Homo sapiens: one gene and its partners. The protein of the gene in region 3 purifies or fractionates together with the protein of the main gene of each other region. This does not show direct contact. Each region holds a gene or a part of one and is shown on either strand. Other genes may lie near its edges.

What was found.
Region 1: the proteins of HAPLN3 (region 3) and DCAF6 purify together in Homo sapiens (co-immunoprecipitation; one large-scale study listed by IntAct). This does not show direct contact.
Region 2: the proteins of HAPLN3 (region 3) and RMND5A purify together in Homo sapiens (co-immunoprecipitation; one large-scale study listed by IntAct). This does not show direct contact.
Region 4: the proteins of HAPLN3 (region 3) and RANBP10 purify together in Homo sapiens (co-immunoprecipitation; one large-scale study listed by IntAct). This does not show direct contact.

The regions. Positions count from the first base shown.
Region 1 is NC_000001.11:168,044,683-168,048,182, forward strand, and holds part of DCAF6 (DDB1- and CUL4-associated factor 6), read left to right. Parts: intron 1-217; coding exon 218-545; intron 546-3,500. UniProt on the Homo sapiens protein: Ligand-dependent coactivator of nuclear receptors. Enhance transcriptional activity of the nuclear receptors NR3C1 and AR. May function as a substrate receptor for CUL4-DDB1 E3 ubiquitin-protein ligase complex.
Region 2 is NC_000002.12:86,726,791-86,730,290, forward strand, and holds part of RMND5A (E3 ubiquitin-protein transferase RMND5A), read left to right. Parts: intron 1-3,500.
Region 3 is NC_000015.10:88,882,045-88,885,544, reverse strand, and holds part of HAPLN3 (hyaluronan and proteoglycan link protein 3 isoform 2 precursor), read left to right. Parts: intron 1-3,500. UniProt on the Homo sapiens protein: May function in hyaluronic acid binding.
Region 4 is NC_000016.10:67,730,061-67,733,560, forward strand, and holds part of RANBP10 (ran-binding protein 10), read right to left. Parts: intron 1,525-3,500; coding exon 1,412-1,524; intron 1-1,411. UniProt on the Homo sapiens protein: May act as an adapter protein to couple membrane receptors to intracellular signaling pathways.

The DNA of each region.
Region 1 (3,500 bases), on a different chromosome or scaffold from region 3:
CCTTTAGATAATTGCTTTGTATGGGAAAATAAAAAGCCTTAATCTATGTTAATCTCTCTATAGTTAGAGGCCATGTTCAAGTGTATTGTGGAAGTTTCCTCCCCTTATAGAGGAATTAGACATCATATTAGAATGTGTTTGTGAGCTCCTAAGTTAGGTTAAATAATTAGTATTGCCCACATTACCACCTGTTACATACAACTTTATTTTCTGACAGCACAATCAGATAAGTTCACAGCCAAGCCATTGGATTCCAACTCAGGAGAAAGAAATGACCTCAATCTTGATCGCTCTTGTGGGGTTCCAGAAGAATCTGCTTCATCTGAAAAAGCCAAGGAACCAGAAACTTCAGATCAGACTAGCACTGAGAGTGCTACCAATGAAAATAACACCAATCCTGAGCCTCAGTTCCAAACAGAAGCCACTGGGCCTTCAGCTCATGAAGAAACATCCACCAGGGACTCTGCTCTTCAGGACACAGATGACAGTGATGATGACCCAGTCCTGATCCCAGGTGCAAGGTATCGAGCAGGACCTGGTGATAGGTTGGTAAATTTTTAATTAACATGAACTGTAAAAAATGTATTTCACAAGGATTTGTTTGAAGTCATTGAAGGGAATCTCTCCATTTTTGACAGTTGCTTCCTCTAAGAGTGTCTCATTCATATAAACTTAAAGAAACTTTACAGTTTACTGTAAATGATTTTACGTATTATATTCTTTGAGCACTGTGCATTAATAGGGAAATAAAAAGTCTTCATTCTCCATATCTCTAGCACTGAGGCTTGCTTCTGAATTTACAGATCAAGAGAAAAGAATGTTAAGAATGACCCACAGGTTATTTATGAAGTCAAGGTTATACTTAGCTCTCAGATTATCTTGTAGATATCCAGGCCTTTATCAGTGTTGTTTTGGTTTTAATGTTAATTTTTTCTGCTTTTCTATTGACCCTGGATTAAGGTAGTGTGTTAGTAGTTCTGTTTTTGGGAACACTGTTTTTCTTTGATTTCTACTAAACTTAGTGACTGAATTTAGAAAATGAAAAATTATACCAAATAAATACCATAGCAGCAATAAAAAATTGAATTGCCAACATGTTTTTATAGTTTTTCTATATTTTATGTGATCACAAGGATATATTTTCTTTTGTGGGAGTTAAAATAAATTTTTAAAGTATACTGCATTTCATACTCATGGAAAACTATTTCTATTATTAGTGCTATCATATCTTATTGTAAGTTCTGTCCTCTTTCAGAGAACCTAGTTTTAATCTTAAAATCCTAGTTTACAAAGGAGTGAGATTCTATTTGAAATATTTCACATTTTATATGCTCAATATATTGCTGTTTATAAGATACCCTAAAGTATCTGTCAACTGAAAAATATAATGAAAGATTAATTTACCACTCATAGTCAAGAGCATGATGATGGGTTTGAATACTGGTTTCACCACTTACCAGCAGTGTTTTTTCATTCAAATTACTTAATGACTCTTAAAGATTCAGTTTCTTATCTATAAAATAGGGTTATGATTATCTAAAATTATTGTAAGAATTTTAAAAAAATCTATCAGTCAATCATGATGTGACCTGGCTCATGTTAATAGCACTAATTAAATGATAGCTGTATTAAACAATCAAGATAGTCTATGAGGCCACTTTAATTTTTAAAAGAATTACAGTAAGAATGACTCTAGGGATAAAGACTGAAAGAAGACAGGCAAAAATCCTGAAGAGGATAGCTTGCAGCTCAGGGGAACTGCCTTTTCTTAACTATGAAAGGGTATGTTTCTTTCTTTAGTCATATTTGGGAAATGTTTACTTTGCCATGGCACTTTTTTTGTAGATATGAAGCAAGAATTTCCCATGTTTATACTTAGAGATTAATCAAACATCTTCTCTTTACCTGTACACAGTAATCTTGAGCATTCTTAGTATATATTTTAGGCAAGTAAGACTTAGTTCTATTTCTTTCCATACCCAGAGGGAGTTCCTTAGAATGTCATTACCACTTAATTTATGCAGATGAGGTTAGCAAGCTTAGCACAATTTGAAAATCAAACTGATAATTTCCAAAATCAAACTGATAATTTCCAAAACCCAGGGTTGAGAGCTAGATTCTATAATTAAGCTTGTACATTTATGGCCTTCCATTTATATAAATGAGCTAATGTCTTATTTTTCTACATTTAAGTAGTAGAACATGATACGGAGGTCATAATTGAAAATTAAATTTAAGTGCCCAGTTTCTAGTAATGTTTTTAATGGATATTAGACACTTTGAGAAAGTCATAACTATTTAGCAGCTTCTATGCAGGCTAATTATAACACTTAATACCAAGCCTGCTTTATAGCTGAGGAAACTTAGGTGCTAAGCAAAGGGTTTTGTATATTCTAGAGCTAAGGAGTTTTGTTTTTTGAAACACAGTACTATAACATTAATGAGAAAGGAGGATTTGAGGGAGGGTGGGTCCTAGAGAATACAGAAACTGTAATCTTTCTATAGATCTTTATCATCTTCATAATACTTAGATGATTTATATGTTTTAGGGATTCTTTTAGCATTTAGATCTGTCACAAAGTTGGTTCCCAATAGCCTCATTGACCCAAGGAAACCCAGATGCTGAACTAGACTAGCAGAATCTTTTAGAAGAGAGATAATCAGTGACAACAAACAGCCTGGAACTGATCCCACTTCATGCATATACTCTTGAATTCATACTTTCATGGTTAAATCCAGATTTGAAACCACTCTGGGATCACATTTAGTTCCCTGCTTTTTAAAAATTAAATATTATTTAATATTCTGTACACTCATTTGAGTATTTAGCCTATGTTGGTCCTACATGGTATTTTGTTTTGTAAGATATAGTAGTAAACTTCCTGAAGAGTAACAGAAGAACGATAAAATTCTTATCCTTCAAGAAACTTAATTATTTATGAATAAGAGAGAATACCGAAGCCATTTATAGGAACATAGAAAACATTTAATATATGAAAGTAAATACAATTATATATATATGTGTGTGTGTGTATATATATATAAAAGATGTGTATACTGAGGTAATTAGAAAGTGATTAGAGTAACAATTACATTAATTTTCCTTTGAGATTTGCATTATTTTCTAGCTCTTTACCAAAAATTTGTAAATGGTGTAAATATTTCCTCTGACTTTTATCTAAATCGGTTATTATAATTCTTAACTTTTTTGGCACCATCCTGATTTAATCTTGAACAACTGTAAAAAAGTATACTTTTAATATTTCTGCACCTTTCTAAGGGCTCTTCATCATTGACACTCCTGCCAGTTTATCTTACTTCTCAATTTAGCTGACTTTTATTCTAAAGAGAGAAAGTTTAAGAGATTTTGCTTCTTAAGAACATGAAAAGAATCACTTACCAGCTTGTAATTAGTCCTATGATTTTGGAGAGTTTCTGTTTCCCAAGAGACTAAGGGTTGTGAAGCTCTGTTGTAACAATCATACCATTTGGTTCCTAGA
Region 2 (3,500 bases), on a different chromosome or scaffold from region 3:
AGGCTGAGGTTAGGGCTAGGCTGGCTCCAGGGGCACCAGGCATGTCATCAGGACTGATCTTGTTCTCTTCTGTCAACTGTTGGCTTTATTTTCAGGGTAGTTTTCTTCACATGGGGTAGAGATGACCAATGGAGCTCAAAAGACAGGAACATGGCCATTTTGTTGGAGATACTCCAGGGAGTACCTTTATTATTCCGTTATGGATCCTTTCCCTGAATCAGTAACTGGGACCAGGGAGTGAGGTCTTCTGGCCACCTTGAGCTGTGCTCACCCCCTCAGGAGGTATATGGCCTTATAATACACTGTTCATCAGGTAAAGAGACAGTTCTAGAAAGGAACACTTAAACCCAGACAGAGTAATATATGTCTATTACAGTGCAACAGCTACATGTTATATCAGTAACATTCTCTGAGATGTTTTCCTGACTAGCCTCGCCTTCTCAGCTTTTGCCTGGCCTCCTAACTATAATGCTCATATAATTCAAGTAGTGAGTTGTTAGTATGACTTAATCTATAGACTAGAGAATACAACTTGGTTCATGTTCCTCTAGAACTTTTTTGAAATTACTTTAATGCTTGACATAGTAAAGTAATTTTCCTAAAGTTATTTTATTTCTAAAGTAGTTTCTAACTCTGGATAATAACATTGGTAAGGAGAAACTTGCCAACACTTCTGTGATACTGTCATACTAGAGCTAATAGAGAAGTTTCTGTTGTTTTCATGTCTTAGTCTCTTAGTCTTTAGGATGATGAAAATGGTGTTTTAGCAAACTGTTCACTTGGAATATTAAAACTAACTTATTTTTATTTAGGGCCCTGCTTCTTCATCTGTAAGGCTTCCAAAATCTTTAAAAATGATCCAAAAATGCAGTTTAGGGAGAAAATTGTGGAGGGCCCTGGCTCTGAGCTATGTGTACTTGGAGACCCGTGGTACTTCCAGGAGATGATGCTCTCTAACTGGACGTTTCCTTGAAAGCTCTGAGAGTAGCAGACACTTCTGGCCATTCTCTTTAGATTAGATGTTAACTCAACCCTTCAGAGAACAAAGACTAGACTGTCTGGCAGGACTCGAGGATTTTGAGAAATACAGTATGCTTTCACCTTATATGGGTGTGGTGATTGTGTGGCTGAGCTCAAAATGGTTGTTTGGGAATGTCGCTTGGAGAGGCCATAGGCTTATATTACCAAGTCTTTCTCCACTTAAGATGGAGGCCTGGATGGTGATTTCGTCTGTTATGGGGGCACAATGTAGTGTCAGGCTGTGTGTTATTTATGATGAGTTTGTTGTATCTGCAGAATTCATATAGGTTTAATTCATCTTATTGATACATGAAGACATTTGGGAGGAGATGAGGAGAGAATCTTTTAAAAGAAACATTATTCATGGCCCTGGTCCTCCAGGAACTTGGAGGCTAATTGAGAAGATGAATCTGTATTTGTGGAATAGTACCTAAAATTTTGACCCTGGGCCCAGGAGGTCTGGGTTTGAATCCTTGCACTGCCAATTTACTGGTTCTACAATCTTTTTTTTTTTTTTTGGAGACAGAGTCTCACTCTGTCACCTAGGCTGGAGTGCAGTGGTGTGTGATCTCAGCTCACTGCAACCTCTGCCTCCAGGGTTCAAGCGATTCTTGTGCTCCCAAGTAGCTGGGATTACAGGTGTGCACAATGCATGGCTAATTTTTGTATTTTTAGTAGTGACGGAGTTTCACTATGTTGGCTAGGCGGATCTTGAACTCCTGGGCTCAAGTAATCCACCCGTCTCAGCCTCCCAAAGTGCTGGGATTACAGGCATGAGCCACCACGCCCGGCCTGATCCTACAATCTTGCTTAGCCAGTTTTTCCTTCAGTAAACTGACATCACAGAGTTATGAGAGTGAAATAAATAATAGACGTGAACTGGCTTTGAAATTTGTAAAACAGGGTAGACGTGTTATTTATAAAGTCTGTGCCTTAAGTGGTGTTAAGCTTTTTTTTTTTTGAGGCTGAGTCTCGCTCTGTCACCCAGGCTGGAGTGCAGTGGCATGATCTTGGCTCACTGCAACCTCTGCCTCCCAAGTTCAAGCGATTCCCCTGCCTCAGCCCCCGAGTAGCTGCGATTACAGGCGCATGCCACCAGGCCTGACTATTTTTTTTTTGTATTTTAGTAGAGACGAGATTTTACCATGTTGGCCAGGATGGTCTCGATCTCTTGACCTCGTAATCTGCCCGCCTTGGCCTCCCAAAGTGCTAGGATTATAGGCGTGAGCCACCACGCCGGGCCCAAGCACTGTTTAATTGAGACATTTTGGGTAATATTTAGGTGTCTTTATTACTGGTTTATGTTAAATACCACTCTGTGTCCAGTGGTCTGCTTAACATTGTAAAGAATGCTTAAAAGGTATAAGAAAGAGTCTTTAAGGAACTTAGAAGTTAGTTGGAGAGACCAGACTCATATTTGAAAGGGGGAAAAAACAAGACCACGGCACACAGTGTATAACAGTGCTTCTGGTGAGTACAGACACCAGTGAAGAGAGAGAGCCCTTAGAAAGAACTGCATGGGAGTAGATGGGCATTATTTCAACTGAACTTTAGATCACCTCATCAGTAGTTATTAATCACCATTTATAGGTAGAACTAAGCAAAATCTTCTAGGAGTTACAAAGAACAAGCATTTTCATCCTCTAAGAACTTTGTGTCCAGTTAGGGAGATGAGACTGGCATTTTTTAACAAACACACAAACAAAAGCAGTGCCCTGTAATGCACGGTTATGTATCTAGGCTAGATGCTACATGAGTGGTGTGGACAAAAAGGGGTGGGATTTGAGACAAGGAGAGACTCTTTTTACCTATGGGAAGTTTTAGTAGCAGAGATTGAATATGGATAGCAGAAAGAGCAGATGGAGTGCCTGGAGGGGAGGATGGCAAGAACAAAGGTGTAGAGGAGTGAGAGGTGAAGGACCAGATTGCAGGGGAAAGGCGATAAGAGCATTAAAATTAAATTGGAATCAGGTTTTGTAAAGCCATGGATACCAGGGAAAGTAGTAGACTGGGAAGATATTGAATTACTTTGGGGTGGGGTGGGGACATTTTGAATAGGGAGGGGACAGGGACACGATCAGAGACCAGTTGTCAGCAGTATTTAGGTTGGTTTGGAGTTGGGAGTGAGGTTTGACTAGAGGCAAGAACGTTAGCTAAGGCTAAGTGTCAACCTAGATTTGATGAAATAGGGACCTGTCTTTGGGTACTGGTGGTAGAAATTTAAAGGGACACATGAAAGGGATTTCTGAGGGAAGGAATGACCAGGAGTTGGTGCACAGATGGAGTCTGGCAGAGTAGGAGAAAAGGGCAGGAAAAACCAAAGGTTAATCCAAGGTTTTAAACATGAATGATGGGTAGATCATTATGGAACCAGGTAGAAAATAGGAAGTTTAGGAGAGGGGAAGGTGGAAATCTGAGTTTGATTTTTTTTTGTTTTTGTTTTTGTTTTTTTGGGGGGTGGGGGAGGGGGGGTCTCATTC
Region 3 (3,500 bases):
CAGAGGTTGCAGTGAGCTGAGATCATACCACTGCACTCCAGCCTGAACGACAAAGTGAGACTCCGTCTCAAAAAAAAAAAAAAAAACACAAAAAACAAAAAATTAGCCGGGTGTGGTGGCGTGCACCTGTAATCCCAGCTACTCAGGAGGCTGAGGCATGAGAATTGCTTGAACCTGGGAGGAGGAGGTTGCAGTAAGCTGAGATCACACCACTGCACTCCAGCCTGGGTGACAGAGTGAGACTCTGCCTCAAAAACAACAACAACAAACTTGTTCCACTTGTTTGTGGAAGGAACGAACCAGATGGCTGGTCTCAGTAATAGCCAGCACCTGCCATGAAGAGCGCACAGCCTGGTTCAGAGACGACACATGAGCCTGCAAGTGCAGTGCTGGGTGTTTCTCACCTTTCCCTCTGCCTTTGAGTAGATGATTGTGCCTGCAGAGGCATTTTCCCTCTTTTGATTAGTCTCCTAGGTCAGCTGTAACAAATTAACACAAACTTGGTGGCTTGAAACAACAGAAATGTATTCTCTCACTGCTTTAGGCACCAGAAATCCAAAATTAGTTTCACTGTGCAGAAATCGAGGTGCGGATAGGACTGTACCTCCTGTGGCTCTTGGGGAGAATCTGTTCTTGCCTTGCCTCTTCCGGTTCTGGTGGCTGCTGGCATTCCTTGGCTGTAGCTGCCTCACTGCAGGCTCTGCCTCCTTGGTCACGTGGTCTTCTCCTCTTTTATATGCAAATCTCCCTCTGCCTCCCTCTAAACAGGTACTTGCGCATTTGCATTTAGGGCCCACCTGGGAAATTCAGGATACCCTCCCCATCTCGACATCCTTAGTTTAACCTCATCTGCAAAGTCCATTTTGCTACATAATTAGGATTTAGGGTATTTTGGGAGGCCATTATTTAGCCCACCACACCCTTTTCCTTCAGAATTTATTTTGTTATACAAGCCCTACTTTATTTATTTATTTATTTATTGAGACAGAGTCTCGCTCTGTCACCTGGGCTGGAGTGCAGTGGCGCGATCTCGGCTCACTGCAAGCTCTGCCTCCTGGGTTCACGCCATTCTCCTGCCTCAGCCTCCCGAGTAGCTGGGACTACAGGCATCCGACACCATGCCTGGCTAATTTTTTGTATTTTTAGTGGAGATGGGGTTTCACCGTGTTAGCCAGGATGGTCTCGATCTCCTGACCGCCTGATCCGCCCGCCTTGGCCTCCCAAAGTGCTGGGATTACAGGCGTGAGCCACCGTGCCCGGCCTACAAGCACTACTTTAATGAGATTTGCGGAATTTAAAAAACTTAAACTTCCTACTCATAGTTTCACTACACTACCAGGCCAACATTTCATTTTTGTCTTTCCCTTTTGTCCCTGAATATGTAAGCAAAGTCATATATAATCCCCCCACCCAGGGGAACCACTGTTAACTTTTTAGGTATCTCTTTCTAGCCTTTTCTTTTTTTTTTTTTTGAGACAGGGTCTCACTCTGTCACACCAGTGCAGTGGTGTGATCTCGGCTCACTGCAACTTCTGCCTCCTGGGCTCAAGAGATCCTTCCACTTTAGCCTCCTGAGTTAGCTGAGACTACAGGCGTGCACCACTGTGCCCAGCTAATTTTTGTATTTTTAGTAGAGATGGGGCTTCACCGTGTTGGCCACGCTAGTCTCGAACTCGTGGCCTCAAGTGATCTGCCCGCCTTGGCCTCCCAAAGTGCTAGGATTACAGGCGTGAGCCACTGCACCTAGCTGAGCCATTCTTTTATGATTTAGAAAACTTTCTCCAACAAAAACCAGCTCATGTCATACATGTGATTTTTGTATTCTCCCTTATCACCTCATAGAATAGAACTCGTTTTCTAAGTCAATGATTGAATGTACATCTACCAGATTATTTTACATGGCTGTATAGTATTTTATCATATGGATGTACATTTTCATTTTATTCAGGTTAAAGCTTCAAAGGTAGTTTACTTAAGAGAGTTGGGAAGAACCAAGGAAGTGGCCCCTAAATGATAGCCCTGCTTCATATTTATTGGACACTTTCTGTGTGCCAGGCATCCTGCCTTACCTGATTTGAACCTTACCACAGCCCTCTGTAGGGACTGTAATTAACCCATTCTACAAATGGGGAAGCTGAGTCTTGACTTCCCTGGATTACACAGCTGGGAAAAGGTGGAACCAAGGGCAAGCCCGAATTGCCTGACTCCAAACCTCTGTACCTACTGCCTCTGCAGAGCAGGACAGCTCTAATCTGAATGAGCCTGAAAGTCCCCTGGAGGCTGGACCCCATTCCCAGAGTCTCTGAGGCACTGGGACCCCACAATGTGCATTTCTGACAAATTCCTGGTGATGCTAATGCTGCTGGCCCGAGGGCCACACTTGGAGACTTCTGCATATGGCAATCTGCTACATTAGGTATAGCTCTTTTTTAGCACGATTCCTCTACAGGGAACCTCCCTGTCTGTCTCCTGCTTACCCATGAGGCTGTCCCCTTGCCTCCACCTTTTTAATTAATTAATTTGTTTTTATTTTGTTTTTGGCAACAGAGTCTTGCTCTCTCACCCAGTTTGGAATGCAGTGGTGCGATCATGACTCACTGCAGCCTTGACTTCTGGGCTGAAACAATACTCCCACCTCAGCCTCCCGAGTAGCTGGGACCACAAGCATCTACCACCATACTCAGCTAGTTTTAAAAATTTTTTTGTAGAGACAGGGTCTCACTTTATTGCCCAGGCTGGTCTCAAACTCCTGGGCTGAAGCGATCCTCCTGTCCTGGCCTCTCAAAGTGTTGGGATTATAAGCGTGAACCACCGTGCCTGGCCCCTGTCCCCACCTTGAGTAAATCAAGCATGTCTTGAAGTCTAGACCCAAGAGAATGAATCAGTGAGGTCCCAACAGGGGCTCCCAAGTTAAAGATGAGGCAGCCTTAGCCTATGAACTTGATTCTTTTGTTGCATGTTGAGTTCTGTGTGTATTTGTAACTCTGAGCCGTGAGCGTAGTCTCCTTTAGAAGTTCTGCCCTTAGCTCAGTAGGCTGCTCCGTATTTGGGAAGAGTTATGGTGGACAGCTGGACCAGAGAGTAAAGCCAGGGCTGTGCTGTCCTCTGGCCAGTGTGGTGGGGAAGGAAACTCCGACGGATCCCTATCAGGGCCACTTGTCCTGGCCATGTACCTCATGTGGGGTGGCTCTTGTTGCCTGCTCCATTGGTTAGATTTTATGCATAGCAAACCACCCAAAACTTAGTGACTTCTTTAGGATGACAGCCATTTGTTTAGCTCATGATTCTGTGGGTCAGCATTTTGGAGTGGGCTCCATTTCTTCAGGTCTTGCGGTTGGGTCTTGCAGATGTGCCTGCCCATGGTGGGCAGGTCAGCTGGGGGCTGGTTGCTGTAGGATGGCCTCAGCTGGGGCGCCCTGTCTCTGTTCTGTGTATTCTCTCATCCTCTAGCAGGCAAGCCTGGCCATGTGCTCATGGTGGCTGGCAAAGTCCTAAAAAAA
Region 4 (3,500 bases), on a different chromosome or scaffold from region 3:
AACACAGCAGTGAGCGAGGGCTACAGGCCTCTCCCACAGCCACACACCTGGGATGCTGCCAGCCTCAGGGTAGGGTCCGGCTCAGAGTGCCTCGCCAGCTTGAAATGCTCACAGGAGAGGAGGCTGGAGAAAGAACCTGACTGCCCAGCCCAACAGATCCTGGTTTCTGCCAAGTGTCAGAGAGTCCTCAAGAATATGGGGAAGATGGAGGGGAGACTCTCAGCCCAAAGGCAGGAGGGTAAATGTGGAGGTCTGCTCCTGCGGGGCACATGGTGCCAGGGACCTGGGGGCAGGGTAGGGCCCCAGCTGGGGCAACATGATCTGGGGATGGGCACCCAGGCAGCTTGGCGGCCTGAGTGGCTCCTCTTCAGACAGACTCCTCTCCTTCCAGGCCTCACAGGGGAATGGCAATGGAATCACACTGGTTTCTGACCAGGGCTCTGGCTGGTGGTCTTCAGGGGCTGCAGCATGCCCCCTGCTGGGAGAGGAGGCCATCCTCCTCATGCTGGCACCTCTGATGTTGACACCTCTCACGCCATCAGCATCTTGCTGCTGCCTTTTCGCTCTTGCCGTGGGGCCTGGTGCATCTCGCTGGGAGCAACTTCAGAGTCTGAGGCTCTCATTCATAGATCCCAAGTCTGGGATCCCTTTCCGTCTGTCTGGCTGAGCACAGCTTCTCTGGGAGACAGACACGTGCACATACAGAAGAGACAGCAGGCTTGGAGAGGGGTAGGCAGGCACTCACAGACACGCATATCCACACCCACTTGCCCTCATTCTCCTTTTCTCCTTCTAGCTCCTCACTGGGCTCCTTTTCCTCTTTTCCAACACCCCTCCTTCCGTGAAAGAGCCTCCAGACACACAGCATCCAGGCCAGCATCAACACTGGGAGAGCTCTGGCCAAGGGAGGACTTTAGGTTGTCTGCAAAGGGCAGGACCAGTGGTGGGGAGCAGAGGGTAGTGCCCCCACAGCAGCCATTGAGCACTGGCTTTGCCCTATCTGACCACTTCAGTCCCCTCTCTGGCTAGGAATAAGCAGAACTACTAAGGCAGGCAAACAGCCTTCCTGGAAGACCATGAACAGGAGGTTGAGAGGAATCCAGGATTCAGGGGGAAGGAAACAAGCAGGGAGGAAATGGAGGAATGGAACCAGCCATGCCAGGGCCTGGCCTGCGCCCAGCCTTCAGAATGTGCATTAGGGAGGCTGCCCTGAGACGTCTCCATCCTGCCAACTGTCCATCTGGGCAGTGCCATCTTGAAGGTGGGACAGGAACATGGCCTCGAGCTGCAAGCTGGTCATGAGGACCAGAGCTGAATGGACTCCTGACAGGTTAACCAGGGTTGACATGAGCCAGAGAGCAGAGTTAGGGACAGGTGAGGAAGGGAAAGGGGAAAGTAGAATAAACCTTACTTTGTCTGTTCTTTATGGACGCCTGTTCTTCCTGAATCGGGGTTTCAGTCATTCGAGCAAAAGCCGTGGCTGTGGCACAATACCCATGATGCACGAGGTAAGATGAAACCATGCTAGAAGAAAGGAAGAGCTTCAGGTGACACTCAAGAACTGCACTTCTCACTGACTACCCAATGGACTCAGGACAGATTACCTCCCCCAGAGGTCTCCCTAAACACGTCCTGGAGGTGTAACCTCCACAGAATGAGAATAAAGGGGCTGAAACAAAATGAAAACTTCCCCCATGGTGCCCCACGGTCATGAAGTCAGGCTTCGGAGGGGCTGGTCACCACATCTGTGCCCACAGTTCAGAGGAGTGGCTGCAGTTTATCTGAGACATGCTGCCCACAAGTAAGCGAGTATGATAACAGAAGTACACACACAGGCACACTCCTCACAGGTGGCTGCCTCTTTGGGAAATGCAGCAAGCCTAAGAGGCCAATAGTCTCACTGATAGCTTCCCGAAACTGCAGCTAGCCAGGTAATCTGGCAGATTTCCAGACAGGATGCATGCCACATGCACACCTTCTACAGACACAGGAGCCCCTCTGCAGGCTGTGCCATGTACCTGAGAGAAGCATTTCAGCCCTCCAGGTGAACCTGCCCTCAGCAGTTCCAGCTCTAGTGAGTGAGTGATGGGAAGCTAACTCACAACCCAGAGTTACACCATGATACACCACAAATCAGGGGCCCAAGAAGCCAAGCAATCAGGCTGATTTTGCCAGGCAGAGATAGGCAGCAGCAGGGCCAATGGGAACACAGTCATTGGGAAATGGTCTGGAGAAGTCTGACTCCCTGTAGCCATTTAACCCCAGCAGAAGCTGGCTGAACAGTGGCACATGTGTGTACACATATAAAGCAGAGGCTGAACCCTCAAATCTGATGTGTACAGGAGTGAATACCTTGGTGTGTACATGTGTCTGATGTCATTACTGTAACTCTAAACACAAATGTCTGAAGGGTTGTCAGGTGGAAGGCACAGAAGTTTGGGTGTGTGTTCCCTCAAGCTTTAAGGGGTAAATGAGATAATACACATAAAGTACCTGGCAGGAAGAAGTCCATAAATAAGACTTCTTATTATGAAATGATATATTACATAATATTATAGTATAAATAATAATTATCAGCTGGGCGTGATGGCTCATGACTGTCATCCCAGAACTTTGGGAGGACAAGGCGGGAGGATCACTTGAGGCCAGGAGTTCAAGACCAGCCTGGCCAACATTGCAAGATCTCATCTCTACTTTAAAAATATGGCCAGGCGTGGTGGCTCATGCCTGTAATCCCAGCACTTTGGGAGGCTGAGGCGGGCGGATCACAAGGTCAGGAGATCAAGACCATCCTGGCTAATGCGGTGGAATGCCATCTCTACTAAAAAAATACAAAAAAAAATTACGCCCGGGCGTAGTGGCGGGCACCTGTAGTCCCAGCTACTCAGGAGGCTGAGGCAGGAGAATGGCTTGAACCCAGGAGGCGGAGCTTGCAGTGAGCCGAGATTGCGCCACTGCACTACAGCCTGGGCGACAAAGCGAGACTCCATCTCAAAAAAAAAAAAAAAAAAAAAAAATTATTGGCTGCGTGTGGTGGCTCATGCCTGTAATCTCAACACTTTGGGAGGCCGAGGCAGGAAAATCACTTGAGCCCAGAAGTTTGAGACCAACCTGGGCAACATGGCGAAACCCTGTCCCCACAAAAAATACAAAAAATTAGCCAGGTGTGGTGGTGCATGCCTACAGTCCCAGCTACTCAGGAGACTGAGGTAGAAGAATTGCTTGAGCTCAGGAGGTCCATGCTGCAGTGAGCCATGACTGTGTCACTGCACTCCGCCTGGGCAATAGAGTAAACTCCTGACTCAGAAAAAAGTAAAGTAAGTATAATTATTATTATTACACCATATTATTATTATAAACACAAGGGTAAATATGAAAAAGTCTTTATCTACAAGAGGGTTACCTACACAAGTAAAAGAGAAGGAATTACCTGACCTTCCACTAGAGGAAGCCAGCCAAAAGGCTTGTGACAAATTTGTCTCTGTGATAACATAGCCATT